Linked DNA regions of Homo sapiens. The protein of the gene in region 1 purifies or fractionates together with the protein of each later gene. This does not show direct contact. Each region holds a gene or a part of one and is shown in the gene's direction. Other genes may lie near its edges. The genes, in order: KSR2, PPP5C, MAP2K2 and DNAAF10.

What was found.
Region 2: the proteins of KSR2 (region 1) and PPP5C purify together in Homo sapiens (affinity purification with mass spectrometry; 2 studies listed by BioGRID and IntAct, with this or other methods). This does not show direct contact.
Region 3: the proteins of KSR2 (region 1) and MAP2K2 purify together in Homo sapiens (affinity purification with mass spectrometry; 3 studies listed by BioGRID and IntAct, with this or other methods). This does not show direct contact.
Region 4: the proteins of KSR2 (region 1) and DNAAF10 purify together in Homo sapiens (affinity purification with mass spectrometry; 2 studies listed by BioGRID and IntAct, with this or other methods). This does not show direct contact.

What each region holds. Positions count from the first base shown.
Region 1 is NC_000012.12:117,454,879-117,462,422, reverse strand, and holds part of KSR2 (kinase suppressor of Ras 2), read left to right. Parts: 3' UTR 1-7,544. UniProt on the Homo sapiens protein: Location-regulated scaffold connecting MEK to RAF. Has very low protein kinase activity and can phosphorylate MAP2K1 at several Ser and Thr residues with very low efficiency (in vitro).
Region 2 is NC_000019.10:46,349,825-46,357,368, forward strand, and holds part of PPP5C (serine/threonine-protein phosphatase 5), read left to right. Parts: intron 1-3,923; coding exon 3,924-4,165; intron 4,166-7,544. UniProt on the Homo sapiens protein: Serine/threonine-protein phosphatase that dephosphorylates a myriad of proteins involved in different signaling pathways including the kinases CSNK1E, ASK1/MAP3K5, PRKDC and RAF1, the nuclear receptors NR3C1, PPARG, ESR1 and ESR2, SMAD proteins and TAU/MAPT.
Region 3 is NC_000019.10:4,113,986-4,121,529, reverse strand, and holds part of MAP2K2 (dual specificity mitogen-activated protein kinase kinase 2), read left to right. Parts: intron 1-3,900; coding exon 3,901-4,111; intron 4,112-7,544. UniProt on the Homo sapiens protein: Catalyzes the concomitant phosphorylation of a threonine and a tyrosine residue in a Thr-Glu-Tyr sequence located in MAP kinases. Activates the ERK1 and ERK2 MAP kinases.
Region 4 is NC_000002.12:68,154,090-68,161,594, reverse strand, and holds the start of DNAAF10 (dynein axonemal assembly factor 10), read left to right. Parts: upstream 1-4,067; 5' UTR 4,068-4,151; coding exon 4,152-4,334; intron 4,335-7,505. Other genes in the region: RNA-binding protein PNO1, read right to left, coding at 3,066-3,215, 3,454-3,660. UniProt on the Homo sapiens protein: Key assembly factor specifically required for the stability of axonemal dynein heavy chains in cytoplasm.

The sequences.
Region 1 (7,544 bases):
CCTATCTTCATATGGCCATCTTCTTATAAGGACACGAGTCACATTGGATTAAGGGCCCACCCTATTTCAGTATGACCTCATCTTAACTAATTATATCTGCAAAGACCCTCTCTCCAAATGAAGTCTCATTCTGAGGTACTAGGAATGAGGACTTCAACATGTCTTTTTTTTTTTTTTTTTTTTTTTGTTGGGGACACCACAACTTATAACACCCTCTAAGACATTTTCTCTTGTGCCTTGACTGGTCCTCCACTGTAGAACCCAGGTGCCCTTGAAGATAGATTCCCCAGAATTCCTGGTCTACAAGGTCAGGCTGTTGCTGTCATGCTTACCAAGCTTGCCCCAATCAACACGTCCCATCACTGAATTCCAACAGCTCTGGATCTCAGTTCTGTGGCTGTATGGGAACAGCCTGTGTGTAAGTGGCTTGTCTGTAGCGGACTGTCACTTGACCCCTGAATGTGCCTCATGACCCTATCCAAAGCAGTTGGTGACACAGCATCTGATTTTATCTATACTCTTGTTCATTGACAAAGGAGTGGATTTTGATGAGCTACATTTTGCTGTTTCCTTTTTTGGCTTTGCCTGTGATGTGGGGAAGTTCCTAGGCAGACTCATGTGGCCACTCTCCCTGGCTCCCAGCCTCACCTCCTCCCGTACCACCTCACCCTCACCTGCACACACCTGCAAGGGAATCACTTTGAACTCCAAGGGGAGTGACAGGCAGCAAATGTCAGTCTGGGTCCTGGAATGTGGAGCCGCAGTGAACCTCTGTCCTCTCTGGTCAGTGCCTGACTATGATATTAACCCAAATCCCAGACTCCCTTCTCGAGGCCCTGCAATCCATACCCATTCTGTTACCAGTTTAGTTTTGAAACCAGTAGTGGGGCAGGAGGTTGATGGAAAATCTGCGGTCCCAGTGACCTCCTGGACTTGTCTTAGTAGTGCCTGGCACATAGTAAGTGCTCAAGAAATGTTTACAGAATGCAGACAGAGAGGTTTGCTGGGTAAGAGTAAGACCCTGGCACAGGGAGTTAGAAGGGCACCATTGGCAGGGCTGGATGGTATTGGGATTCCCCTTTGCCAGACCATGTTGTGGGTGCCATATCAACCCCAATGAGTTTGTTTGTTAGGTTTGTTGTTGTGGTTTAGAGTTAGAGTCTTGCTCTGTCACCCAGGCTGGAGTACAGCGTGATCATAGCTCACTGCAGCCTCGAACTCCTGGCCACAAGCAATCCTCCCACCTTAGCCTCTCAAGTTGCTGGTACTACAGGTGCACACCATCATGCCTGGCTAATTTTTTATTTGTTGTACAGACAGGGTCTTGCTATGTTGCCCGCGCTGGTCTTGAACTCCTGGTCTCAAGCAATCCCCCTGCTTCAGCCTCCCAAAGCACTGGGATTACAGGGCTAAGCCATTGTGCTGAGCCAGTTTGCCAGGTTTAATATCTGTGACGTATGAAGCGACCCATTGAGTCAGGTGGCCCAGGATGTCTAGGAGGCAGAGTAACAATCCACCCTGAACAGCCCTCATTCACAGAGCACTTACTACGTGCCAGGCTGGAATTCCTATGATGGTTTGGGGAGATCAGTAGTCTTATTCTCGTTCCAATGGGGCAACTGTGGTACAGGGACAGAAACCAGCCTCCAAATTGCAGACCCAGCATTTTAAAAACGAGTCTTTGGGCTCATCCATTCCCAGGAACCCACCTCCAGGTCAAGGGGTTCATGTCCAGCTGCTCATGGGGATGTTACAATCCCAGCCTCTGAGACTTATTGGCAACTTGGAACCAGGAAAGAGAGAGAGGAAAAGCAGGAAGTTGTGGAAGGGAGGGTGCAGGGGCTGGCAGGGACCATACTGGGAGTTTGCACGGAAGCTTGAACTTATGTTCTCAAACTGACAGGCTGCCAGCAGCAGCCCGGATTTCCAGGAAATGTACATCTGGGTTGGCAGAGTCCCTCCTGGGTCCCTCCAGTATCCCTGCTCCAGGCTTCCTATCCCCTCCGTCTCTCCTGCTGGATGTTGCACTGTGGTCCCGTGTTCCTGAGAGGCGTACATCAGTGAGTGCTCTTCCCTCTCAGGGGTGGGAAAGGGCCCTTCCTTCCCACTCATTGGGATCATGCAGCTCCCATTTCCTAACACCAAGAATATGAAGGATTCATCTCATGGGGTTGAGAATGGCTGTCCTCCTTCCACTGAGGACTGAGCTGGAGGAGATGGACTCTGTCTAGAATGTGCCTGATCTAAATAAGACCTTGTTTCCCAAGCATGTCCCATAGACCTTTCATTCCATGGAAAACTCGCCGGATTTGCATTATTGAAAGGGTCCTGGGACAAGCATGCATTGGAAATGCTTAGGTAAAATGAAACTAATTTCTTGATTGCAGGACTTATCAGAACTTTTAAGACACTATTGTGTGGTTGAATCTCTAAATGCCTGATAGGAGGCTGTTCTTCCCAAGCTTTCCCAGGCTTGTTTCTGAATCTCCAACAAGGTCAACCTCTGTGAATGAGACTTGATACCTTACCTGGTACTGAAGGAGGCAATGTCAATGTACTGGCCCACAGAAAAGAGCTGACCACTAGCATTCATAGACACTGCTAGGAGATGAGAAAGGTAGCTTAGAGCCCGATTCCATCCATGTGGACAGTGGTTCCATGAACAAGAACACCACATCTGGCTGATGGTGTCTTCCAATGGAGGGGTCAAATCTGCTGTGTGTTGGTGGCTTCTCCAACATACCATGGCTTGGAGGCCAATGTGAAAAGTATATAAGATGTAACACCCTCAGAAGGGTTAAGTTTTCACCTGAGTTTTCATCTTCAACCAAGTCATTGGGATGGTGATCTAGAAGGACCTCTAAGATCTAGAAGGATAAAGATCTGGTCCAAGGAGTACAAATATGTAATGGATCTACCACCAGTGTCCCCTGCTGTACTCTTGGCAGACATCACTAATCCATCACAGCATGCCTTCCCACTGATCACAGATGTAGCTTCAGGGCATTCGAGTTACCACTTAAGATGGATATGAGTGACCCTCCCTTATCTCACTCTTCTCCTTTCACAGAAGCAGGATCTGAGGCCCAGAGAGGGAAGCTATAATAAACTCCCCTAAGTCAGGTCCCTTCTAAGAGGCAGAGGTAGGTTTAGAACTCAGGCCTCAGAAACTTCCAGAAGCCAAGCCATTTGGGCTGTAGTTGGTGGACAGTCTATCAGCGCTCTGCAGATGTTTCTTCTCAGTTAGGGAACTTGGAAAATGCAGAAAGAAAGATTCTGTCTCTAAGACTCTGTGTATGATCCTACTCGGTAATCTGCCTGCTTGGAGAAAAATCATTTATCTTCTGGGACGGCTTCACCACAAGGCCTGAATGCTATGCCCAGTCTAGTAACAGCTGGGCTGGAAGTCACGGCATATGGGGGCCTTAAGGAATAACAGTGTGCGTGGTGGTGTGCAGGAGAGCTGCAAGGGCTTTTCTTTCTTGAGGAGGTTTGTAAAATTTCTGCTGTTCAGTCTGGGCTTCTGGGAAGTCAGGGGGTGCTGCATATAAAGGGCAGGAAAAGGAGCCTGACTCCAATTGCTCTTTGGTTTCTTCCCTGAATGGAAGGCTCAAAATCAAGTTTCCACCCAGATAAGATCTTGAGGTCCTAGTGGACCACCAGCTCTACTCCTGAGCTCTTGAAATACCTCTAATCACCAGCTCGGTGGCTGAGAGTACCTTCTTGTCCACTGCCTCTTCTTTTCCTTCTCGTCTTCACTTATCCCCCATCCAACTTCTGCCCGATAATATCTCCCCTGTATTGTAAACTGAGGAGAAAGTTGCACAATTGTAGAGATGAAAAATAGCTGCCATGTATTTAGCTTAAATTAGCTCAGAAGAAAGGCTCCCTCCCTCCATTGAGCGGGCAGCACTTGTTTATGCCAACATGCTATTTGCATCGCGCCTTCTTAAATTTGAAAGTCTAATGATTAAAAACAAATCTTAGTTTTTCTTTTCCACCACTTAAAAAAAAAAAACCAGCTTGGCTAGTTCTTCTAGTTTAAAAATACCCTGACCTCCAGCACTACAGTGAGAATTTTGGAAAGGCTGGTACCAGGATATCAGGAGGAAATAAATACAGGCCAACAATAACCAGAGGCCTTTTCTGAGTGGTGGGCGACAGGATGAACAAGGTAGAAGAGAGGTCTTTGTGTCCTCACACAGATGCTGGCATTCTGGGTTTGTCTGGAATTCAGTGAACCTCTGTCCTCTCTGACAGAGATTTCTTCACCAACCATTCATTCAGTGGGTGATTTGTTGAGCATCTACTATGTGTTAGACCCTGGGCATTCAGTGATGAGTGATACAATGTCTCACCTGTTCTGAAGCCTAAAGCCCAATGGGGAAGAGAGACAAGAAGCAAGTCAACCACAAATATATAAATTTGCAACTCATGTAGATCTATGGAAAGAAAACTCACGGGGGACCAGAAACATGGGAGAGGGTATACTGTGGGAGAGCTGCTGACAAAGGTCTTTCTGAGGAGGTGACATTTAAGTCAAGATCTAAAGGAAGAGAAGGATAAAGAGATGTTCATTCTAAGCCAGGGTTTCTCAACCTCAGTACTGTTGAGCTATTTGGGGCCAGATAATTCTTTGAGGTGGCGACTGTCCTGGGCATTGGAGGATGTTAAGCAGCTTCCTCAACTCTCCCCACAAGATACCAGTAGCACCTGGTACTGGTGACATCCAAAAACATCCCCAGACACACCCTGACTTTGCTGTCTGGAATCAATCCTCATAAAGCCCCAAGCCTTGGAGCACAGAGGCTGGAAGCCCATATGGTGGCATGTCAGGCATGGTGTCACCTGAGCTTCTCTGACCCCCACTTCTGATATGGCATCCAGTTTGGAGTCTCTGTTCTCCATGAGCTCCCATAGCTGTCCCATATTCCACAAGGCATTGCTTCTGGGCCACGGTCCTCTAGTTCCAGCATAGCCCTATTTTTGGGTATGTTGGTGGATTTCAAAAGCCTCCAGTTGACATCCAAAGTGTGACATCCAAAACCATCTCCAGACATTGCCAGATGTCCCCTGAGTTGTCTCCAGGCCACGCGACTAGGATTCAAATCCAGCATCCTGCCATCTGCAACCTTCCATGGGAGAAAGGAAATCAGAGGAGAACAGGAAAACACAAGGAGGGGACTCCTTAAGTGAACATTGCAGGGAAATAGGTTTTTAAAGCACTAGTTAGCATCACCAGTGGTTTGAAGGCTGTCTAGGTAAGGAGAATGTGGACTTGCCTTTCACCGTCTGCACGGACAGGGGCTGAAATCTCCAGTCATTCTCTCCATCCTTCCACAGCCCTTCTAAGAAGCAGATCCTCTTGCTGAGCTGAAATCTTGAGACTTGCATCCGGCAATCTTGGTGTTGCTTTCTGAGGCTACTCAGGGAAAGCCCTTCTGTATTCCCCAGGAAGGAAAGTCTCCCAGATAGTGAAGGGCCTTTTCTACCTTCCTTGCAATTCCCAGTTCACTGTGAAGAAGAGAGTCAGGCCGGGTTAGAATGGCTGTCTCTGGTAGCAATGAAGCAACAACATAGACAGTCTGGACAAGATGTGGCAGTTCTGTCCAGTCCCGTGTGACTGATTTGGGCATGGAGACAGGCAGTGGGTGAGGATGGCCTCTGTAGGTCCAGCTGTTTTACCCCTAGAATCAAATCCCTGGAGCTTCCGGCAGTCCCAGGATTGGGAAGGGTAACAGAGAGGACGAGTCGGGCACTGCAAAAGACCAGATCTTGGAAAATTGCTTTGGGAATTGGGACACCTTCCAAGAAGACAGTTGAGTTGGCTGGGGCTCTGCCCTAGATGGGGTCAACCTCTCCCCAACACAGCCCTGCCCAGGTTGGGGCATTGGCAGCTTAAGTGCGTCCTGGACAACAAATGTAATGTATTGGTCCTGTAAGATTCTAGCCATTTTCCTCTGCTTATTTTTCTACATGTGTTACAAGTAATAATGTTTAGATGGGTACATATGAACTTGTGTAAGTTCAAGTAACTGCTATGTAGCTACAGCATGGGCATCAAGGTACTCTAAGGTACTTGCCCTGCCACACCGAGGCCCCCTGCCCCGGCCCCCTTTCCCTCCTAGCCAGCCTTCTAGGGAGCACTGCACACCCTGCCCCTTCAAAGCTATCTGGACAGTCCTGGCTCGACTGGAGCATTAAGGGAGGGGCTGTCCTTGGTCAGGCTTCTGCCCAACTGTGTGATGCATAAATCTTTGCCTGGCTCCTTCTTCCTTCTTTTCGGAAGTCTATCTCCTCCTGAGGGCCTCTGCGGTCCTAACCTATCAAGGAATATCATAGATTGTACTCCCCACCCCATCAAAACACACCCTGACTTTGCGTCTGGAATCAATCCTCATAAAGCCCCAAGGCTTGGAGCACAGAGGCCAGAAGCCCATATGGTGGCATGTCAGGCATGCTGTCACATGAGCTTCTCTGACTCCACTTCCAAGATGGCATCCAATTTGGAGTCTCTGTTCTCCATGAGCTCCCATAGCTGTCCCATATTCCACAAGGCACTGCTTCTGGGCCCCGGTCCTCTAGTTTCCTCATAGCCCTATTTTTGGGTACATTGGTGGATTTCAAATGCCTACAGTTGAGCAGCCGAAGGATTCTAAGAAAATTTTGCTTGTATTTCAAAGGCTCATGTCCCCAGCCCCATTCACTACACCCTCAGCAGAGCCCAGCGTGGAGCAACCTTGTCCCTTCATTCCCCAAATCTTCATTTTATATAGTCATTTAGTAAATATTTGTTAAGTGCCTCCTGTGATTCTGGAAAAAATGGAGAAAAGTGGGTGCTGCCTTCAGGGTACTAGGAGTCCGATGAAGAGAGGGAGGAGTTCCAGTAGGGTCCCGAGGCCCCACAGGAGCTCCCAACCCAGAGAAAGACCCTCCAGGAAGGATTCTCAGAGGAGGAGACTTCTGAACCCTGTCTTGAAATTTGAGTAGAATGGTAGGGAACGGTGTGTCAGACAGAAGGAACAGCCTATGTGTGGACTCAGAGGCAAGATCATGATTTATTGAGGGTAACTGCAAGTGGCTAAAATCCTGCCCCCTGGCACTTGCCTGCCTTTCCCTGCTTTCCCCAAAGCCTGATTTTGGGACCCTGGAGTCTCCATCTCCAAACAGAGGGTGCCCTGGCTCAGATGTGGAGACCTTGACTTCTTTCCCCAGCATGCTCTGGTTCCTACTGTTAGCCTTGGTGTCCTGTGGGGGAAGATGTCTGAGGAGAGTTTTGTGCTTGCTGGAGTCAGACCAGTACTCAGGCCACCTCAGGCCTGCTCTGCATCCCTCTCTGGCTCTACAGACCTCTCTCTCTCTCTCTCTCTCTCTCTCTCTCTCTCTCTGTCTGTCTGTCTCTGTGTCTGTCTCTGTCTCTGCCTGCCTCCACACAGTGAAGGATGTGTCTCTATTTCTTAGTGCCCTGCATTGGGTCCTGAAGTCCATGGGCATCTTGGCTATAGATGGGTTGGCCATGAGCCCTTCTCTCTAATGCATTTTTC
Region 2 (7,544 bases), on another chromosome or scaffold:
TGGAGAGAGGGTGGACGGTACTCCAGGCAGGGAAAAAAAAAACAAAAACAGGTGGCAAAGGCCCAAAGGTGAGCAGAGCCAGGCATGGAGGCCATAAGTGGGGCCACAGCGTAGGAGGCTGGAGGAGGTTATGATGAGTTTGCAGGGAGTAGATTGCGCAGGGCTGTAGGAAGGAGCCAGGGCTTTCTGGGGTGGGGTGGCGGTGGGGGGTGGGGCTCTGGGGAGCCCTGGGAGGTTCTGAGTAGGGAAAGGACAGGGTCAGGTTTGTGTTTTAGGAACACCCCTCTGGAGGGGCAGGACAAGAGGCTGCGAGGCCAGGTGGAGGCTGAGCCAGGAACCTGGGCAGGAGAGGCCAGACCAGGGCTGGGTGGGGCTGGAGGGTGAGAAGGGAGTGGCTGAATCTGAGAGATGTTCAGGAGGCTGACTTGGCAGAATAAGTGAAGTGACTACCGGGCTTTGGGGGCTGAGGGATGGAGAGGAGTCCAGGATGAGGCTGTCTCAGCCAGGTGATGGGGTGGAAGGTGGAATTCCCTGGGATGGGAGCAGCCTGCATGGGGGTTGCTGCTGAGGCCGCATCAGAATTCTGGGCCACAGCAGCCATTGGGAGGAGCCTGTTGCCCCCCAGGACCTGGGATCCAGGCTCTCAGGAGTCCTGGGGCTGGGCAGGCAGCCAGAGGGGCCTGGCACTGAGCTGGCACGGAGGAGAACGGCCCTGCTGGCCCAGGCCCCTTGCTGTCTGTCAGGCAGTAGCAGGCACAGAGCCCCAGGCTCCAGGGCTGTGGGAATAACAATAAAAAAGAATAATGACAGCTCACCTTAATTGAGCCTTGTGGCCAGGTACGCTGTGGGGTTTAATCCTCCCCGGGGGCTGGGAGATGGCTAGGAGTGGCCCTGTTTGTTTTATAAAGGAAGCAAGGCTCGGAGAAGTGAAAAAACCACTCGCCCAAGGTCAGAGTGTGTGAGCAGCAGGGCCCGGATATCCCCTTCCTCGCCACGTGCTTGGCTCCCACGTTCAGGTTCCTCCCAGAGCTGTACTGGCCCTGTTGAGGAGAAGAGGGGCCCCAGCAGGGAGAAGAGAGGTCCCAGGGCTCAGAGGACTGTCCCCTCAACTGTGGCTGGTTGCTCTGTAAGTTCAGGCCTATTCCAGAAATCCTGGGGGCAGAGCCTCGTCCCCCGTCTCATGTCTGAGTCTAAGGGAAGTGTCTCAACTGTCTTCCCCTCTCTGTGGGCCTCAGTGCCCCGCTTCTGTAAAATGGGGGGTGGGGGCTTATGCTTAACCCCTAAGGAGGCTCCAGGTATAAGAGCTTGTGGGGAGGAAGCAGGCCATGGTTGAGAGCTCAGGCTGCCTGGGTTCAAACCCTATGTCTTCCTTTACCTGCTTGATGACGCCTGGGCAAATGACTTAACTTCTCTGGGCCTCTGTTTCCTTGCATCTAAAATGGGGAATGTCTTGAGGCTTAAATATGGTCCTGTTTGTAAAGCGCATAGAACAGGGCCAGGATATGGCATGTGGGTCGACCCGTGGAGTACAGGCTCCTCCCATTTCCTCTTGTTCCCTTCACTTCCTCCCTTCATTTAGTCATTCACGCATTCACTTCTTTTGCCTGCTTCTTTTGCTGCAGCCAGTTTTCTTACACAAGTTCGTAAAATCCTCACGGCCACCCAGTGAGGCAGAGCTCAGAAAGAGGAGGCTATTTGCCTGCAGCCTCGAGTTAGAGATCTGCAGAGCCGGGTGGCAGGCCCTGAGACTCCAGGATCCCCTCCCTGTGCCACTGGAGTAACAGCTGCCCCATCAGGAGCGCGGGCCAGGCAGCCTCTGGACCACAGCCAGGAGGCCTGAAGGAGTCCTCAAAGGCGCTGGCATTCCAGGGAGGGTCGGTCAGATCTGGGCTGCCCAGTTCTGCCCTTGTTTGTTTTTGGGAAGTCCCGGGCCCTGCCCTCCTGGGGCTTACAGCTCTGGAGGGACACACTCATTACTCAACAGTGACGATGAGAGTGGACAGGGCTGGCACAGGAGATCCCAGGGGCTGGGGCAGCCCAGTCGGGGGCCTGACCCAGCCTGGGAGTAAAGGAGGGCTTCCCGGAGGAGGGGACATGTGAGCATTTGAAAGATTGCCAGGAGTTGGCGTGGCAAAGAGGAATGTTGTTAGATTGTTGCTGGCCACATCCCCAGGACCCGGCTTCTCCCTTCTGTAATGTCAGTCCTCATCTCTCTCTGCATCCCTCCTTCCTTTCCCTCTGGAGCCACTCATGGAGCCTGGGACTCTCTTCTTCCATCTCTTCAACCAACTGACTCCCATCCTCCAGGTCTCAGCCCCAGTGTCCCCTCCGAGCTGCCCCAACCCTAAACACTGGGCACCACTGTCTAGGGATGGATCTGTCTCCTCCACTGGATGGTAAGCCCTGGGAGGGCAGGGCTGTGTGTAAGAAGGACTCTCGGAGTGCTGTTGAGAACATTAAAATGGGAGTGAGGGTGGGGACTCTGTGCAGGGCTGCTGGTAGAAGGACTCTAGGAAACCCTAGTCCACAGGGGGTTCCTCAGTAGCCCAGGGATACCCAGGTAGTAAGAGGCAGAGCTAGGGACTGGGCCCAGGCCACCTACTCCTGCCTCTGTGCTTACCCCTGTGCCACGCTCCTGCCCAGAGGTCACCATGGCATGGGGCGTGAGAGTGGGAGCCTTTTGGTCTTGGCCTGGCTCAGAAGGCCCACTTCTCGGCCAGGCGCTGTGGCTCACGCCTGTAATCCCAGCACTTTGGGAGGCCAAGGCAGGAGGATCACGAGGTCAGGAGATCGAGACCATCCTGGCTAACACGGTGAAACCCCGTCTCTACTAAAAATACAAAAAATTAGCCGGGTATAGTGGCGGGCGCCTATAGTCCCAGCTGCTCGGGGGGCTAAGGCTGGAGAATGGTGTGAACCTGGGAGGCGGAGCTTGCAGTGAGCGGAGATCGCACCGCTGCACTCCAGCCTGGGCGACAGAGCGAGACTCCATCTCAAAAAAAAAAAAAAAAAGAAGGCCCACTTGTCACCTGCTGTGTGACCTTGAGCACCGGCCTTTCTTCCCTGAGCTTCAGTCCCCAGATTTGGAGACGGGGGTTAATGTAGTTTCCCTGGGCTTGTGAGAGTTCAGTGAAGGGGGACCTGTGTACTAAAGCCCTGCATGGCTCTGGTACATCACGGCCCCCAGTGGGGACAAGCCTCTAAGGCTGTTTAAGCCTTGGCTCTCCTGCCTGTCAAATGGGCACGAGGGAGGGATCAAGCCTGGCTCTGCAGGTGCAGACAGGGCATTTGACCTTGAGCAAGACCTCCATGGCTTGTCTGTAAAATGAGCACCAGATGGTCCTTACTCCCGTGGAGACATGAGGATTCCACAGGTCACGAGGTAAAGTGCAGGGTACAGCTATAGCTCATCTCAAATAAAATCCGACCTCTCCTCCTTGGCCAGATGTCACATCCTGTCACTCCACACTTAGAACATCAGTGTCCAGACCTCACTGTGGCTGCCCGGGGCCCAGGGATCTGTCCCACCAGCCTCCCTGCCTCATCTCTCCTCCCCCTGCCCACTCCACCCAGCTGCCTCAGCTCTCACTGGCCCTCAGACAAGGCTCAACCACCTCTGGGCCTCTGCACCTGCTCTTCTTGCTATCGGAGTGCTCTTCCCTCAGTCTGCTGCTAGTGCCCAGCTTGGGGCTGGAGGGGTGGGTGGGCGGGTGTGTGGAGTCCTGGAGACTGTGGCCGAGAGGACAAGCCCTGAGCTAGGTTGGTTGGGACAGGCAGGAGGGGCAGGCTGAAGAGATGTCTCTGGGCTCAGGGTAGCCCTCAGCTTCCCCATCTGTGAACAGGGAGACTGGGCGTCACCCAGCCCAGGGCCTGTCCTCGCAGGGTTGGAGCACTGCCTCATGCCTCTTCTTCTGTCTCCGCAGCCAAGGACTACGAGAACGCCATCAAGTTCTACAGCCAGGCCATCGAGCTGAACCCCAGCAATGCCATCTACTATGGCAACCGCAGCCTGGCCTACCTGCGCACTGAGTGCTATGGCTACGCGCTGGGAGACGCCACGCGGGCCATTGAGCTGGACAAGAAGTACATCAAGGGTTATTACCGCCGGGCTGCCAGCAACATGGCACTGGGCAAGTTCCGGGCCGCGCTGCGAGACTACGAGACGGTGAGCTGGGGAGTGGGCCAGGCCTGGCACCTGAGCCAGGCAGATACTGAGGGCTGGGCTGGCGGGGACGGGTGTGAGGAGCCATTCACTCCTCTACTTACCACTCAGCCAGCCAGCAAGTGCCTGTGGGGCCTTGGGCCCAGGCCAGAGTACCCAGGCCACAGCTCTGCTCAGCCATCTCACATTTTGTGACCCTGAGCCAGTTACCCCGCCTCGCCACACCTTCCTTTCCATATCCGTGAAATGAGGAGAACAAGAGGATCAGCCTCAAGGGTAGCGGTGAGGAAAAGTGAGCTTTTGCCTTTCACACGAGTAGACCAGTACTTGGCCCGGGGTCAGTGTCCTGTGATGGTTCACCTGATGGTTACTGTCATTGTTAGTGCTGGTGCTGGACAGGAGCCACACAGCCTCTCTTCTTCTGGTGGAGCTTGTCTTTCAGGGGCAGGCAGAAAACCCACCACTGAATAGGTTAGCAGAATAATTGCAGGTGAGGATCTGCACTTTGAAGAAAAGAGGAAGGGCAGTCGGGCACAGTGGCTCACGGCAGTAATCCCAGCACTTTGGGAGGCCAGGGTGAGAGGATTGCTTGAGCCCAGGAGTTTAAGACAAGCCTGGGCCACATAGGGAGGAGACCTCATCTCTACAAAAAATACAAAAATTAGCCAAGCGTGGTGGCACGCACCTTTAGTCCCAGCTACTCAGGAGGCTGAGGCAAGAGGATTACTTGAGCTCAGGAGCTCAAGGCCGCAGTGAGCTATGCTCTCACCACTCCACTCCAGCCTGGGCGACACAGTGAGACCCTGTCTCAAAAAAAAAAACAAGAAGGGTGATATGCTGCCAGGGACAGCAGACAGGATATGTGTGATATGCTGATGAGGGAGGGGACCTAGGGCACAGTGAGAATTCGCTAGTGCCCTCACCCACCTAATGAAAATCCTGACGGTATGAGGCTCTGCAGAGCGAGCACACACCTTCACACCAGGTGTGCTCTGCATCTTCCTTCAGGGAGGCTGGCTGAATCATTACAGCACCCTGGGACGTGGGAACTGGGATTACTCCCCTTGCACAGATGAGGAAACAGTCCCTAAGGGGTGAAGTCACCTGCCCAGTGACCCCCACCTGGTTAGTAGCAGAGCTGGGATTTGAACCCAGGAGGCCTGGCCTCAGGGCCTTATCTCTCCCACCTCAGAGTTCGCTCCCTGAGACGGGGCCGTGCGCTTGTCCTGCGCATGGGGATGGTGCAGCAGGGGGCTTGGTCAGTGTGTGTCGAGAGGATTGTTATCCTGCCCCCCGACACAGACACACTTCACTCCCTCCTTCCCTTGCAACCATCACACTCGGAGCTGCTTGTGTCGTGTAGGGAGGGGCAACCAGGGAGCTGGGAGCCGCGAGTCTGCAGTTGGTCGCGGGGCTGAGAAGCACGAGTCTGCAGTCGGTGGAGCCAGCTCAGACACTGTCCTGGCTGTTGGCCGCTGGCCTGGGGTGGAGGGTGGACTTCAGGCCAGGTGAAGGCTTGAGCTAAGCATGAGTCCAGGGGACACATGTTAGGATGGGGGCAGAGATGTGGCGGGGGGTTAGGGCGACACCTAGAAGGGTGGGGGCAGGGGCAGCAGAGCAGAGGCCTTCCCAGCTTGGGCTCCCAAGCCATTCTTGGCCAAGCCCCTCCCTCATTGTCTCTTCCTGTCCTAATCTAGAAAATGGTGACAAGAGGAGTGGCCGCCTCCGGATGGCTGTGGCTGTGATGACATGGTTGAGTAAAGGTCACGAGCTGCAGGGCTCAGTAATGAGTAACCAAGGACAGTCGGTGTTGGGTTGGGGCAGGGCTCCAGGTGGGAAGGGGGCCTGGGGAGACAGTGGGGCAGAAGAGAGGAGCCCCAAGGACAGGTTTAGGGCAGGGTCTTCATCTCGTGTGGGGCTGCAGGAGCATCTTTCCCCAGGGTAAGGAGCAGGGGCTGCAGGCAGGGTCTTCGTCAAGTGTGGGGCTGCAAGAGTGTCTTTCCCCAGGGTAAGGAGCAGGCTTTTCAAGACTCTGGCCCAGTCTAGGGCCCAACCCCGCATACTCCCAACCCCGCATACTCCCTGAGGCTGGGCTGGTTGGCTTCAGCCATCTTGTGGGTGTGCCACGTCTGAGCTGTGTCCCAGGCCTGGCGGATGGCAGGGAGGGTTGAGGGGGTGGGGAATTCAGAGTCTTTTACAGAATACCCAGCACCTAAATTGTCATGGCCCATTTCCCCATGGGGGCTCTCCCAGCAGCATTGGGGACCCCCACATGAACATGAGGGCTTACCTGTCATCAGGCCATCCATATGCCTGCAGGCCTTCAGCCTTGCTCCTTTCTGCGCAGTTCTTCAGGCTCCATGTGCCCTGGGGCAGTTCATCTTCCCAAGACTCTACCTCCTGCTTGCTGGATGCTAGAGTTTCCTCCTAGACCAGAAGCTCGCCAGGGAAGCAGAGCAAAGACGTGACCTTGGCCTTGGGCGGGGGAGCTCCCCTTAGCCTCGGTTTCCTCAGCGGTCTGCTCACTCTGGGCCCAGCACTGCTGGGAGCCCTTTGTGCACCTGAATTCAGCCTGAATTCAGACTGAGGCCTAGAGAGGAGATGTCCCTCCTCCAAGGTCACCCAGCAGGGAAGTGGCAGAGCTGAGACTTGAACCCCTAGTCCATGCTTGTAACTGTTTCTGGGCCACAATCAGTTGAATAGCTTCAGCACTTTTGTCTTCATCAAACAGAGAATTAAAAACGGTTCATTGTTTGGAGGAAGTGTGTATAAATATTGTTTTGTGGAAATGACTTTTCATTTACACAAGTACAGATGAGTGATGGATGTGATATAAAAATCCCTATTTTACATGTGGGCTGCAGGCAGAGAGTCTGCGGTCACCAGTGCAGGGGCTAGATGGGGCAGGCTCTGGGCTCAGGACGCCTAGGTTCACAGCCAGCTCAGATTGGGTAGCAGCTGCATGGCTCCTAGTGCCTTTTTTCTCAGCCTTAGTGTCCTCATCTGTTAAAGGAGGTGAGAATATAGGAATAACAACCAAAGTGTTTTTTCTTTGTTTTTGTTTTTTGTTTTTTGTTTGAGAGAGAGTCTTGCTCTGTCACCCAGGCTGGAGTGCAGTGGCACAAATCTTGGCTCACTGCAACCTCTGCCTCTTGGGTTCAAGCGATCCTCCCACCTCAGCCTCCCAAGTAGCTGGGACTACAGGCGTGTGCCATCAAGCCCGGGTAATTTGTGTAATTTTTGTGGAGATGGGGTTTCACCATGTTGCCCAGGCTGGTCTCAAACTCCTAGGCTTAAGGAATTTGCCCACCTTAGCCTCCCAAAGGGCTGGGCTTACAAGCATGAGCCATGGCACCCGGCCCCAAAGTGTTTTTTCTATTCT
Region 3 (7,544 bases), on another chromosome or scaffold:
TCATGTTGGGGTTCTGAGGGGGTCAGGATGGGGTCCCAGGGAGGTCAAGATGTCAAGATGGGCATCTCTGAGAGGGCATCTCCTGCTTGTGGCGGTGCCCAGTGTGTGGAGTCCCTGAAGCTGGAAGTGTGAGGAGACAGGGAAGCCAGAGTGTGAGGAACGAGGAGGCGTGGGGATCAGGGGACCCTGCTGGCCCCTGAAAGCAGAGGTGCAGATTCTGAAGTGAGTGGACCGGAAAACCCTTGTGAGGGGCTGACCCAGTGCAGAAGCTTTGAGGAGGTGGAGGGCGACCAGAGGCCTGGGTGAAGGGATCTGAGAAAGGGGTATGCTGGGGTCCGGGTGGCGTGCTGGCAGAATCGCACTGCTCCAGGACGAGGGAGGGGACTGGGTGTTGGGGGCACACACTGGTGGGGTCATGCCAGGGTGATCTCTGCACTCCCGTTCTGCAGGCCGAGGCAGGGCAGGGCGATCCCCGGGGCCCTTGGCTGGGGTCCGGGTGCCGTGCCTGCGGTGTGACCCCTCAAGAACCAGGTGTCAGGGACTGTGGCATGTCTGGTGGCCTCTCCCGCTTGGGGGTCGGCCTTCTGTGACCCAGATGAAGACTCTTGATGCCAATGTGTGCAAGTCAACACGGGCACAGCCAGACACGGGGACCCGTTCCTCATTCTCTGCACAGAACTCGCCCTTCACATTTCTCTTCCGTGTGGGGTTTGATTCCCATCTCTTGAAGGATTCCCCCAGGAGAGGAAGCTGGCTGTAGGGACGCCAAGGTTTTGTTTTGTTTTGTTTAATAACCACAGTTGGGTTGCCAGTAAATTTAAGATGGATTAGTCAGCTGACTCCAGAATGCATTTTCAATGTTTTGAGCAGTACTTGAGACCTTCCAAGTCTGCCATCAGAAGTGTTCATTCATGGCTGGGTGTGGTGGCTCACGCCTGTAATCCCAGCCCTTTGGGAGGCCAAGGTGGGTGGATTACTTGAGGCCCAGAGTTCAAGACCAACCTGGCCAACATGGCAAAACCCCGTCTCTATTAAAAATGCCAAAAAAATTAGCTGAGCGCGGTGATGCACACCTGTAATCCCAGCTACTCAGGAGGCTGAGGCAGGAGAATCGCTTGGACCCAGGAGGCAGAGGTTGCAGTGAGCTGAGATCGTGCCAGTGCACTCCAGCCTGGGCGACAGAGCAAGACTGTCTCAAAAAAAATAAATATTCATTTATTCATTGATGTTATTCATTCATTCATTCATGTTCCCCTCCTTACCTTCTGTCCCACTCCCAGGGTCTCGCCATTTCTGCTTCTTCTGGGTCCTTGTTCAGCAGCTCCTCAGTGAGCACCTACTAGGGCCCTGTTTCCCCTCATGGGGGACACTAAGATGAGCAGGGGTTGTCCTGACCTCAGGCAGGTGTTGTTACCTCGGGCAGGTTCCCCCACCCCTGTGAGTCTGTTCCCTCCTGCCTGGGCCTCCGGGGACGATGGTGAGAATGGAATGAGATGGTGTTTGTCCAGCCCAGGAAGCGGTGCCCAGGCCCCTGCCTTCCAGCGAGCTCTTTGCAGCACCAGCTCCAGCGCCATCGCCTCGGTTCTGGCCTGTGTGCCCCGTGGCTTACGCCACTTCCAGCTGTAGGCGAACAGTGGTCGAACTTTGGGATTGGAAATTTCCAGATGGAAGGAGCAGTCCACGCCTTCATTCCCTGCTTCAGTCCCCTCTCTGGCTGTCCACCTTGGCTTTAGCTCCTTCCTGAATTGGGACCTCTGGAGGTGGCCTGTTCTTCCAGAGAGCCATTTAAAGCTGCACTGCCTGGTTGAGTAGCCCCTGGCTACAGGCAACACATAAAACAAGAATTGCCCAAACCCACGAGAGCATAGGCGCAATAATGCCATTGTAGATTTCAAAGGCTTAAGACGGAAACAGTGTGAAACATTCATTCATTTTTCATACTGGTTGTACGTTGAAAATGATAACATTTTTGATGGGTTAAATCAAATGTGTTATTAAAATTAATTTCAGCCAGGTGCAGTGGCTTATGTCTGTAATCCCAGCACTTTGGGAGGCCAAGGTGGGCAGGTGGCTTGAACCCAGGAATTCAAGAGCAGCCTGACCAACATGGCGAAACCTTGTCTCTACTAAAAATACAAAAATTAGCTGGGCGTGGTGGCGGGTGCTTGTAATTCCAGCTACTTCGGAGGCTGAGGCAGGAGAATTGCTTGAACCCGTGAGGTGGAGGTTGCAGTGAGCCAAGATCACACCACTGTACTCCAGCCTGGGCGACAGAATGAGACTTTGTCTCAGAAAATAATAATAATAATAAAAATTAATTAATTAAAAAGAGCCAGACATGATGGCTCACACCTGTGATCCTAGCTACTAGGAAGGCTGAGGTGGGAGGATCACTTGAGGACAGGAGTTGGAGGCTGCAGTGAGCTGTAATCGTGCCGCTGCACCCCAGCTTGGGAGGTAGAGCAGGACCCTGTCTCTAAATAAATGAAGTGAGTTCACCTGTTCTTTTTAAACATGGGTACTAGAAGATTTTAATTTGTGCGCATGGTTTACATTCCATTGCTTGTGCACAGCAATGGGTTCCTGTGTGCATTGCGCTTAGTTGTCTGTTACTCCAGGATCTGGTTCTGAGTCAAGGCATTTGTGAAAATAGCTTACTGTCGAAATTTCCTCTGAAGATTCCTTGAATCACCCAATAAAGTGCAATGTACTTGCTTGTTTAAATTGTTAGAAATTTTTTATTGTGTAGAAACAAGGTCTTGCTCTGTCACCCAGGCTGGAGTACATTGTCACGATCATGGCTCACTGCAGTCTCGACCTCCTGGGCTCAGCCTCCTGAGTAACTAGAACTACAGGCATGAGCCACTGTGCTCGGCTATAGGTCTCACTTTGTTGCCCAGGCTGGTCATGCTTATTTTTTGTTTTTTTTGTTTTTTGGTTTGTTTTGTTTTGAGACAGAGCCTCCCTCTGCTGCCCAGGCTGGAGTGCAGTGGCAAGATCTCAGTTCACTGCAATCTCCCCCTCCCGGGTTCAAGCAGTTCTCGTGTCTCAGCCTCCCAAGTAGCTGGGACTGCAAACGTGCACCACCGTGCCTACCTGATGCAGCTTTTGTGCTGAGCCTTCTGCCCTCTACTCTTGGTTCTCATTCTGTGCTCTGAGGCTGCTCAGAACGCTTGTTCCTCTATCTCCTGCAAAGACAGACATCTTGGCCCGGGCTCCGTTCACCCGATCCCAGCTTCCTCGTCTCCTCCCGACATGGTCCGGAGCTCGTGCGTTAGGAAGGAGGTCTCCCGGCCGCGTGCAATGGCTCACGCCTATAATCCCAGCACTTTGAGAGGCTGAGGCAGGCGGATCACTCAATGTCAGGAGTTGGAGACCAGCCTGACCAACATGGCGAAACCCTGTCTCTACTGAAAATACAAAAATTAGCCGGGCATGGTGGCGGGAGCCTGTAATCTCAGCTACTTGGGAGGCTGAGGCAGGAGAATCTCTTGAACCCGGGAGGCCAAGGTTGCAGGGAGCCGAGATCGCGCCACTGCATTCCAGCCTGAGCAACAGAGGGAGACTCCGTCTCAAAAAAAAAAGAAAAAGAAAAGAAAAAGACGGAGGCTTCCTGGGTCCTTTGAGCTGCAGCTTATCCTTGAGGTCCTGAGGTCTGCTAGACTTGTTGAGACAGGATCAAGGCAGCGTCCTCAGTTCCCGGGGAGCCGCCCTGGATTCTGGTCATTGGTGTGTCTATGGGGGTACACAGCATGGATCCTTTCCTTCTACACCATGAACCCCTCAAGTGCAGGAATCCAGTCTGTGTCCTCCTGGGGGCCGATGCACCACGGCCACATAGCAAACGGCCAGATGGAGTCTCCCTAGGTAGCTAACCCCTACCCTGGGGGGTCTCTGCAGGGCAAACCTGGTGGACCTGCAGAAGAAGCTGGAGGAGCTGGAACTTGACGAGCAGCAGAAGAAGCGGCTGGAAGCCTTTCTCACCCAGAAAGCCAAGGTCGGCGAACTCAAAGACGATGACTTCGAAAGGATCTCAGAGCTGGGCGCGGGCAACGGCGGGGTGGTCACCAAAGTCCAGCACAGACCCTCGGGCCTCATCATGGCCAGGAAGGTGAGCACTGCGGGGTCGGGGAGGTCGGGGAGTGGTGGGGAAGGTCCCCCTGGAAACAGGAGGCAGGTTGGGAAGGCAGCCGGGTCTCTGCATTCTGATTAGCTCCAGGCTCTGTCCCTCATCCCCACCAGGGACTCTAGGTCCTGAGAAAGGGCCCAGCTTCTGGGCAGATGGGAGCCGTGCCAGCCACACCAGCCACACACAGCTGTGCCCTCCAGTGACTACTTTCTGCCCTGGAGGGCACTTGAAATCCATATTCCCAGAAAGCTAGCACGTGGGGGTTTCAGAAATGCGAGTGTGTTATGGTTCTCCAGAGAAACAAGCGATGAAGACGAAGCGTGTGTGTGTTTGCGCCTATGTGTACAGCCACCTCAGGGCGATGGCTCAGCCAGTGACAGACCGCCTACGCAGCGGTGGCGACGTAAGATGATCAGGCCATGTTTTTGCTGTGCCTTCTGTATGTTTATTTTTATTTTTATTTTTACTTTTTGAGACGGGGTCTTGCTCTGTTGCCCAGGCTGGAGTGCAGTGGCATGATCTTGGCTCACTTCAACCTCCGCCTCCTGGGTTCAAGGATTCTCTTGCCTCAGCCTCCCGAGTAGCTGGGATTACAGGCACACACCACCAGGCCCAGCTCATTTTTTTGTGTTTTTAGTAGAGGCAGGGTTTCGCCATGTTGGCCAGGCTGGTCTGGAACTCTTGACCCCAGGTGATCCGCCTGCCTCGGTTCTCTATATTTAAATAAACAGACAGCAGCTCAGCACTGCGCTGTACAGAGCATGGGAGCCTGGGTGTGGAATGGGCTTTCCAGTGTTTGCACAGTGACGACATCGCCCAGAGAGGGATTTCTCAGTGTATCCCTGTCCTTAATGATACTTGAGTGTATGTGTAGAGAGAGATTTATTCTAAGGAATTGGCTGGAGTGCAGTGGTGCGATCTTGGCTCACTGCAACCTCTACCTCCTGGGTTCAAGGGATTCTCCTGCCTCAGCCTCCCGAGTAGCTGGGATTACAGGTGCATGCCACCACACCCAGTTAATTTTTGTTTTTTTAGTAGAGATGGGGTTCACCGTGTTGGCCAGGCTGGTCTCGAACTCCTGACCTCAAGTGATCCTCTTGCCTCGGCCTCCCAAAGTGCTAGGATTACAGGCATGAGCCACCGCGCCTGGGCAGGCTTTTCCCTGAAGGCCTTCAGCTGATTGGCTGAGACTCACCCACCCTGGGGTGGAGTAATCTGCTTTGCTCAGAGTCTGCCAATTTAAAGGTTAATCACATCTTAAAAACATACCTTCCCAGCAACCTCTAGACTGGCGTTTGACAACTGGGCACCGTGGTCTCACCGAGGAGACACACAAAGCTGACTGTCACCCACCCTTTGAAAGTCTGCAAGCCCTGGTGCTGACGGCCCCCGTGCTTAGTCATCCCGGGCTCCTGGGCCATGATGCAGCCTCTGTGCTCTGTGTTTGAGAATAGTGCCCAGGGGATACAGGGAGGATGTGACCACTTGGGGACAGTGGCTCTTAAACACAGAAGTAGGGGACTTAGTGTTGACAGGGTGTTCAGCTCCTCACCGGTGTTCTTTCAGACCTAGAACGCTGCCTCTTCCTGGAAGCCCACCATCCTGTAGTTCCCCAAACTGGGGGAACGTGACTGCACCTAGTCCCGTGGGTCTGCGCAGGTGGCAGCAGTGCTTGAGGGCCCTGCCTTCCTCGGGAGCAGCGGCTCAACTCCTGCGGGGATTTAGCTCTGCAGCTCTGTCTTCTGGCCTCTAGAGTGCTGCCCTCCCTCCCTCCTGAAGTGTGCAGCCGCGGACTTGCTATTTCTGTCCCCGTACTGCAGGCAGCCTCTTCCAAACCGGAGCAGCCTTGGAAAGCTCAGGTCCGCCTCCGCCCGAAGCACTGGGTGGAAAAAGGCAAGCGTGTGGTTCACACAGCCACAGCAGGGCCTTGAGACAGTGCCAGTCCTCGTGTGTGCCAGGGACCCTCAGGCTTCTGGGGGAGCCTCCAGTGGTCCCTGATGGGCTGGGCAGTGGACATGAACCCAATGCTTGCTGTATCAGCAGCTCCTGCTCCTGCTGACAGGCGCAGGTGAAGCCGGGCCCACCTGCAGCTTTACTGTAGCGGGGAAAGGGAGATCGGGGCCTTTGAACCTGAGGGCAGGCGTGGCTGGGCAGGTTCTGTGGTCTGGTGGGTGGAGATGTCCCAGCATCAGCTCTGGGTGTCAGTACTGTCCTTCCGTCATGTAAGATGTCAGTCATCTTGGGGGAGGCGGGGAAAGGGCGCACGGGACTCTCGTTACTATTTTTGCAACTTCCTGTGCTTCTATAATTCTTTCAAAATTAGGTTTTCTTTAAAGTGCCCGAAAACTCGGGTGGGAGAGGATGCATTGAGCTCGTGGGCTCAGCGGCTCTGGCTGCTATGCAGGTAGGGCTGCAAGGGCTCCTTTCATTTCATCTTATTTATTTACTTATTTTTATTTATTTATTTTTTTGAGACAGAGTCTCGCTCTGTCACCCAGACTGGAGTGCAGTGGCACAATCTCGGCTCACTGCAACCTCCACCTCACAGGTTCAAGCGATTCTCCTCCCTTAGCCTCCTGAGTGGCTGGCATGCCTGGCTAATGTTTGTATTTTTAGTAGAGACGGGGTTTCACCATGTTGGCCAGGCTGGTCTCAAACATCTGACCTCAAGGAATCCATGCATCTTGGCCTCCCAGATTGCTGGGATTACAGGCGTGAGCCACCGCGCCTGGCCCAGTCTCGGTATTTGAGGTCATGCTGGTTTGTAAATGTCTTTTTGGCTTGACCGTGGCCTCTGACCCCTCTCCCATTGGAGCAGCGTCCCCGCGTTACCTGGGCCAGGGAGATAGGTGAAGAACTTGCTGCTTGTTACGCGTGTGGGGCTTCTTTGAATTGTCCATGCTCATAGCAGAGATGAGAGTGTTTGTTCTCGCCTCTGAGTTCCTCCACTCCGCTGTAGCTTACTTCCAGGGTGGCGGTCACACGGCCTGCCCAAGGCCACCTCACAGTACCAGCTGCTGTCTCACAAGTGACGACCTGAGTCGAAGCCGCTGCCAACACCTTTGACGCGTGTTCTCATTAAAATTGAACAGCAGCCTCGTTTTACAGTTGAAGAAACCGAGGCTGTGTGGGGTCAGTGCCTGAATCGGATTCGAACCCTCTTGGATCTGCTCGGACTTGGGAGCAGCTGCCGGGGCTGAGCCTCCAGATCCACTGCACTGCGGTCCCCTAGCTGGCCACCGCTCCCAGCCTGTGTGTTAATTTTTAAAATCTCTTGTAGAGATGAAGGCTTGCTACGCTGCCCAGTGTTGAACTCCTGGCCTGAAGCGATCCTCCCGCCTCAGCCTCCCAAAGCACTGGAATTACAGATGTGAGCCACTGCCCCGGCTCTCTTCCAATTTTTGACAACACCTAA
Region 4 (7,505 bases), on another chromosome or scaffold:
ATTGGAGAATTTCCTTCACCACCACCTTTCCCTAATATATTCTGTATGACACAGGTTCTGGTCAGATAAGTGCTGTACTTTATTTGCAAAACAAAACGTTCCCAGCTCCAAAGCTTGGCTGTTCCACCCAAAGAGTGTCAAATAACTAACCGCACTATATGATCAGATTTTGGGGTTAACAGCAAGACTCCTCTGGCACAACCCAATCTCTCCCATTCTGAAGAACCTCTACCTTCTGTCCATCCCTTCAATGCCCAATGTCCTCTTCTCTTCTCTCTCAAGGCAGTCTTCCCTGGGATTCCTGACTTAATCTTCTTAGTTATCATTTATATGCTGATGTTTCTTAAACCAACAGCTCCAGGCCTAACTACCTGCATGCACTGATTGGGGAAATAAAGAATGAATGAAGCACTGAACCTGTCCTCAAAGTTTATTTGAGAAATGCAGAAATAACTGTTATTCATAAAAAGCCTACCACTGTAAATAACACGTACTATAAATAACATGCTTTACACACCATAACTCTAACCTTCACAACAACTTTGAATGTTAAGTGATATGACTACCTTCGTATGTGAGGAAACTAAAGTACTAAAAAGCAAAAAAGGTAAGATTTAAACACAGGTCTGATTTCAAAACTGTTATTTCCACTGTCCCATGCACATTCACAGTCTAGTTGAAGAGACCACGTATTCAACAAATGTAAAACCATATGGGCTTGTGCAATGGGAGAGTCCCCAGAGCTTTCCCATTTAAAACTAGACCCTAGTTCCAATCCTATATGTGACCTTAGACAAGTCCCATAGATACTTTAGGTCTTGAGTTTTCTCATCAGTAAAATGAGGAGGTCAGAGTAGAAGATCCTGAGTGTTCCCTACTAGTATAATAGAAAATTTCCCTTATTAGACTGATGACTGTGGCCAAGTTTCCTCACATCTTTAAGATGGGAATATCCTGAAGACTAAATGATGTAGAGCATGGTGTAATACCACTGTGTGTCTGGTATATGGCAGCATCAACAAATGTTAGTGGAATCCAAAGTGATTATCCTGCAATAAATAGGACAATAAAGCACATGAAAAGTTTAGGCACTGAAGATATGACTGAAAAATGGACATACCATAACAGAGAAAGAACTTGAGCTAGACCCGGAAAGATACTGGAACTGAAGTATAAAGAGAAAGGAGTAGGGAGGAGCGGACCTCTTTCAAAGGCCAAAGCCACCAAAAAGTATGGACATAAACAAACTTTATGATCCGTGAGAGACAAACTTGTGACTGAGTCTCCTACTTGAAAAGCAAGTTAAGTCCAAAACTTTTTCCTTTAGAAATGTTGAAGATGCTCACGCCTGTAATCCCAGCACTTTGGGAGGCAGAGGCGGGTAGATCATGAGGTCAGGAGATCAAGACCATCCTGGCTAACACGGTGAAACCCTGTCTCTACTAAAAAATACAAAAAATTAGCCGGGCGTGGTGGTGGGTGCCTGTAGTCCCAGCTACTCAGGAGGCTGAGGCAGGAGAATGGCATGAATCCAGGAGGCGGAGCTTGCAGTGAGCCGAGATTGCGACACTGCACTCCAGCCTGGGCAACGGAGCAAGACTCTATCTCAAAAAAAAAAAAAAAAAAAAAATTTTTTTTTGTTTTTTGAAGATGCCAGGATGTCATAAAAGCATTGTGATCTGGGAAACTTAATCTGGCACTGGCAGATGGATGAGTGGAGAAAGGAGAGACGTCAAACAATGAAGCAAGGGAAACCTACAACGAAACCACTCCTTGGCAGGAAACCATAAAAGCCTGAATGAGAGAATGGCAACAGGGACAAAGAGGAGTTACTCTATCATGTTCTATGATATTTTACACTTTATCAACTATTTAGAATAGTGCCTTTCTTTGTTCCATTATTATATTCCATTAACAGAGATGAGACTATACCAGTCCGGATGATGGTAAAAGAATCCTTAAAAAGGAAAATATAATTAATTTCGGTTATCGATTCTGGTATGAAATTGGCACCCAGAAAAGAAAGCCCAAAGTAAATTTAAATGTCTAATTCCCGGATTGATAGCACAGAATTTAAAATATATACATAGGCTCGGTGGGGCAGCTCACGCCTGTAATCCCAGCACTTTGGGAGGCCGAGATGTGATCACCTGAGGTCAGGAGTTCGAGACTAGCCTGGCCAACATGCTAAAACCCAGTCTCTACTAAAAATACAAAAATTAGCCAGGTTTGGTGGCAGGCACCTGTTAACAGTGAGCCAAGATCATGCCACTCACTCCAGCCTGGGTGAAAGAGCAAAATAAAAAGATATATATACACACACACACACACACACACACATATATATGCATGTTTCTTATCAAAATAATACATTTTTTAATCAAAAGAGCACCATTAAAACACAGTCATGCACTGCATAATGACATTTTGATCAGTGACCAACCGCTCATACCATGGTGGTCTCATAACAGTATAATGGAGAATATACAGAAACCTGATATATGGCACTGGATACCGGCAATGCAGATCAAGTAGATGAAATGACTGATATTCAGTAATGGTGCTGGGACATTTGGTTTTCCATATGAAAAAAATATATAAACAAATATACACATACCATCTAGGTTTGTGTAAGTACACTCTATAATATTCGCACAAGGACTAAGTCATCTGACAAAACATATCCCAGAACATATTCCCGACGCTGACTGTATATACTTCTTGTAAAGCAGCAAGTGCTTATATTCATTATTTACCTGCTTCTGTTTATGGCAATCTCTTTACTCGACCTTTTCTCAATTTGACATAGAACATTATAAAAGATACACAGAAGAAGAGCCAGTATTTTGGTGTGATCTCAGAACTAATTTACAAATTCAATTAATATTTGTATCGAATGCAGATTTTTAAGGCATTTGGGAAGTTCAAACTCAATATGGTAAATTTTTAAACTGGACAAAAACCATACAACAGAAAAGTCCCATTAAGTAAAGCCTATTCATGCCTTTTCATCTCTGTAGGAGAGAAAGCCTGGTGTATTGGGAAATGATTGAGATTTTCCTTACCCTGATTTCTACATTCCTTGATTTCAAGTTAAAGCGTATCTGAAGTCCCAAATGTTCCACAATAGGAGTAAATATCTTCATCCAGTTTTCTTTCAATGGTGTGTATCTGTTAGCTGGGACTGGAATTTTCCTTGTTTCTTCTTTCCCACTCTGTAAATAAAAGAACACACAACTCAGAAGGCTATGGAGGGACGGTGATGGAGTTTAAAATGACATCTGATCCACAAAGGGCCTCCTTTAACTGAACTAGTTACACTTCAAAGAATCACTTCTCTCTGAGCATCACGGCAGAACAGCCCCACCGCAGCTTCAACATTCTCCAGAGGCCATCGGCTTGATCCGCGTCTGGCCCTTGCCTCGTTGCTGTCCTAGGGTCCCAGCCACATACCAGGAGCCCGTCCCCACAGAGGGGTGGGAAGACGGGCCTCTTCGCCGGCCTGGCCTCCTCTGTGTCCATGCGGCCCGCATCCCCGCCCTCTCCTGCTGCGGACAGCTGTTCAGCCTGTCGTTTCTTCGCCCGTCGGCCACCCTTGCGGGTGACCTGGGTAAAGCCCTCCTCTGCCCTGGCGCTCTGCGTTTCCATTTCGGATTCCATCCCCGGAAATCTTAAAGCGCTGCCGGCTGAAACACGTGCGCAGCTGCACCACGCAGAAGCCAGCCTCAGCCAACCACCCCTGCAGCTCCGCCCCTTTCCTAAAACGTCACAGGCCGGGGACCTGCAGGATTTGGGGCCGGTGGGGGGGAAAACGGGGTTAGGCTGTCCTAAGATATGCCTGATGGTCTTGGGCTCACTCCAGCCGCGCAACTCCCAGCCCAAGTATTTTGTAATCTCTAGTATGTATGTGTGCGAAAGGCAGTGGGTAAAGGCGATAAACAAATTCGTGCTGTTGTGAAGGAACATTCTGTGCGATCGCAGGAGCGCATCTGGCATTATCCGGGGATAACTACAGCCAACATGCCAGGGCATCTGGGGCAGAATACGGAAAGCGGGAGGGACAAATTGCCAATGTTTGGAGTCTGGTTTCCAGGTTGCCGTTTTTGGGGGCTCTGGGTGTGGCGGTTGCCGTAGCTGAAATTGGCTGCACCATGTCGGCCTTCGAGAAGCCTCAGATCATCGCCCATATCCAGAAGGGCTTCAACTACACGGTGTTTGACTGTAAGTGGGTGCCCTGCAGCGCCAAATTTGTGACCATGGGCAACTTCGCACGGGGCACCGGCGTCATTCAGCTGTACGAGATCCAGCACGGGGACCTGAAGCTGCTTCGGGAGGTGGGTGCCGGGTCGAGGATCCGGACTGCCGTTGGGGGCGAGTGCGGATCCTGGGGTCTGCATTCCTCTTTGCCAGAGCCTTCGCCCAGCGTCCCCCAAAGCATGGCTTGAGCCGCGCGAGACCAGAGAAGCTGACCGCCGACTGAGGAATGTTTCCTATTTAAAACCTTTCTTCTCATCCGCGGGGTAGTTCCTCCGCGCCCAACCGTCCTGCCACCCCCAGTGCAGTCCAGCCAAAGCGGGCACCAGGATGCCTGCAGTGTGGTTGGAAGAGGCAACCTAACACATTCGACAGGCATCAGCTGAGTGCCTGGTATTCCCAGGGATGTGAATGGTAATGTCCCCCATCTCATGGAGTTTATTTTCTAGTGGGAGAGATACTCAGTTCAATAATCAAAGCAACGATACATAAATACAAACCGAGATGAGTTGTCTCACACAAAGGAACACGGTTACGGTTCAATGAGAGTGAAAACAGATTTGGGATGAATGAAAACAGATTTTGGTATGTGCAGAAGCTAACTAGGTCAAACTAGGAGTAAAGGACAAGGTTTCCAGGGCTTCTGCACATGCAGAAGCTCAGTGATGGGAAGAAGTTTATCTCCTTAAGAAACTAGAGGGATAAGCAGGAACCAGACATTGCAAGATCTGTAGGACATTCAAAGGATTTATGCCTTTTTTCTAAGAAAAAACGGACACAACTGAAAGGATTTAAGCAGGGTGTGGAAAGATTAGGTTTGCAAGGTTTTTTTGAAGATTACTAGTGAAAGAATTAGAGAATAATGATAGTAACTAGCATTTTATAGCTGTTTATAGTTTTTAAAAAGTGTTGATTTTGTTACCTGAAAAAATGATCAGTCATTATCAGATCAGGGTTGTAATAGACTACAAGTGCAGGGTAGGTTAACTCTGGGGATCAAAACCTATGGAGAGAATCTGCTTGGAGGAGGTAGGGATTAAACTGGTAGATAAAGGATGAATACAATTTGGACTGTTAAGCCTAGAATAGAAAGTATGTAAGACCCCATCCCGCTTTAAGTTTCCCTGAATGACAAACATGAAACATGGCTTATTTTTTTCTACCTTTCCTTCGTTCCTTGTATTGTTCATCACTTAGCTTCTGGTAACCAGTGGCTTTTTTTTTTTTTTTTTTTTTTTTGAGACAGGGTCTCAATCTGTCACCCAGCCCGGAGTGCTGTGGTGCAAACACAGCTCACTGCAACCTCCGCCTCCCCACCTCAGCCTCCCAAGTAGCTGGGACTACAGGTGTGTGCCACCACACCTAACTAATTTTTTTGTACTTTTTATTTTTTTATTTTTTATTTTGGTAGAGATGGGGTTTCACCGTGTTGCCTAGGCTGGTCTCCAACTCCTGGGCTCAAGCAGTCTGCCTACATCGGCCTCCCGTAATACTGGGATTACAGGCGTGAGCCACCAAGCCTGGCTACCTGTTGCTATTCCAATGTTCAGTTCAGATTATCTAATGTATGATGCCCTTCCTGATTTCTACACAAAGTAAAATTTCTTTACATTGCATTTTGGGTTGTTTTTGTTTTTTGTTGTTGTTGTTTAGGGATGGCGTAGCTCTGTCCCAGTCCGGAGTGCAGTGCTACTGTCATAGCTCATCGCAGCCTGGAACTCCTGGGCTCAAACCATCCTCCCGCCTCTCCCTCCCAAAGTGCTGGATCAGGTGTGAGCCACCATTAAAAAGAAAAGGTATTTAAAGGATTTATTCCTTTTTCTTTTCTTTCTTTCTTTTTTTTTTTTGAGACGGAGTCTGGCTCTGTCACCCAAGCTTGAGTGCAGTGGCGTGATCTTGGCTAACTGCAACCTCTGCCTCCCAGGTTCAAGCGATTCTCCTGCCTCAGCCTCCCTAGTAGCTGGAATTACAGGCACATGCTACCACGCCCAACTAATTTTTTTGTATTTTTAGTAGAGATGGGGTTTCACCATGTTGGTCAGGCAGGTCTCAAACTCCTGACCTTAGGTGATCCACCCGCCTTGGGCTCCCAAAGTGCTGGGATTACAGACATGAGCCATTGCACCTGGCCATTTATTCCTTTTTCGAAGAAAAATGGGACATGATTGAAATTTTTTTTTTTTTTTTGAAACAGGGTCTCACTCTTGCCTACGATGGAGTGCAGTGGCAGGATCAGGGCTTAGACCTGTGACTTTTTAAAATAAGAACAGGCCTGGTGCAGTGGCTAACGCCTGCAATTCCAACACTTTGGGAGGCAGTGGGGTGGATTGCTTGAGCCCAGGAGTTCAAGACCAGCCTAGGCAACATGGGGAAACCCCGTCTCTACTTTTTGTATAAAAAAAATACAAAAATTAGCTGGGCATAGTGATGCGAGCCTGTAGTCCCAGCTACTTGGGAGGCTGTGGTGGGAGGATCTCTTGAGCCCAGGAGGTCAAGGATGCTGTGTTCGCACCACTGCACTCCATCCTGGGTGACAGAGAGACCCTGTCTCAAAAAATAATAAAATGAAAATATATGATTTGTATGTATTTCAAAAGTACACTTACTCCATCAAGTGGAATAGAGTAGTTTGTCTTTTGTAGCGACTCTGGGGAATTTCAGCAAATTTTAAAAAGATAATTTTCTTTTGTAGCAAAAATAATATGTGTCCACGATAGAACATTTAGAAAATAGGAAAACGAAGAAAATATCACCCATAATCTCAATGCCAGGAATAACCACTAAGTGTATTTTCACGCCGGGTGTGGTGGCTCACGCCTGTAATCCCAGCACTTTGGGAGGCCGAGGCGGGTGGATCATGAGGTCAGGAGATCGAGATCATCCTGGCTAACACGGTGAAACCCCGTCTCTACTAAAAATACAAAAAATCAGCCGGGCGTGGTGGCGGGCGCCTGTAGTCCCAGCTACTCAGGAGGCTGAGGCAGGAGAATGGCTTCAACCTGGGAGGCAGAGCTTGCAGTGAGCCGAGATCGCGCCACTGCACTCCAGCGTGGGTGACAGAGCAAGACTCCGTCTCAAAAAATAAAAAAAGAAAAAAGAAGTATATTTTCACCTGAATCCTTTGGATATTCTTTTTTTCTACCATGAGTTGTCTGAGAACACACTATTTCAAGGTACTGTGTTTAACAAGGACCGAAGAGATTTAAAAGTTGAGTCCTTTCTCCTAAAGAGCCTACTGTCCAAAAAGAGGG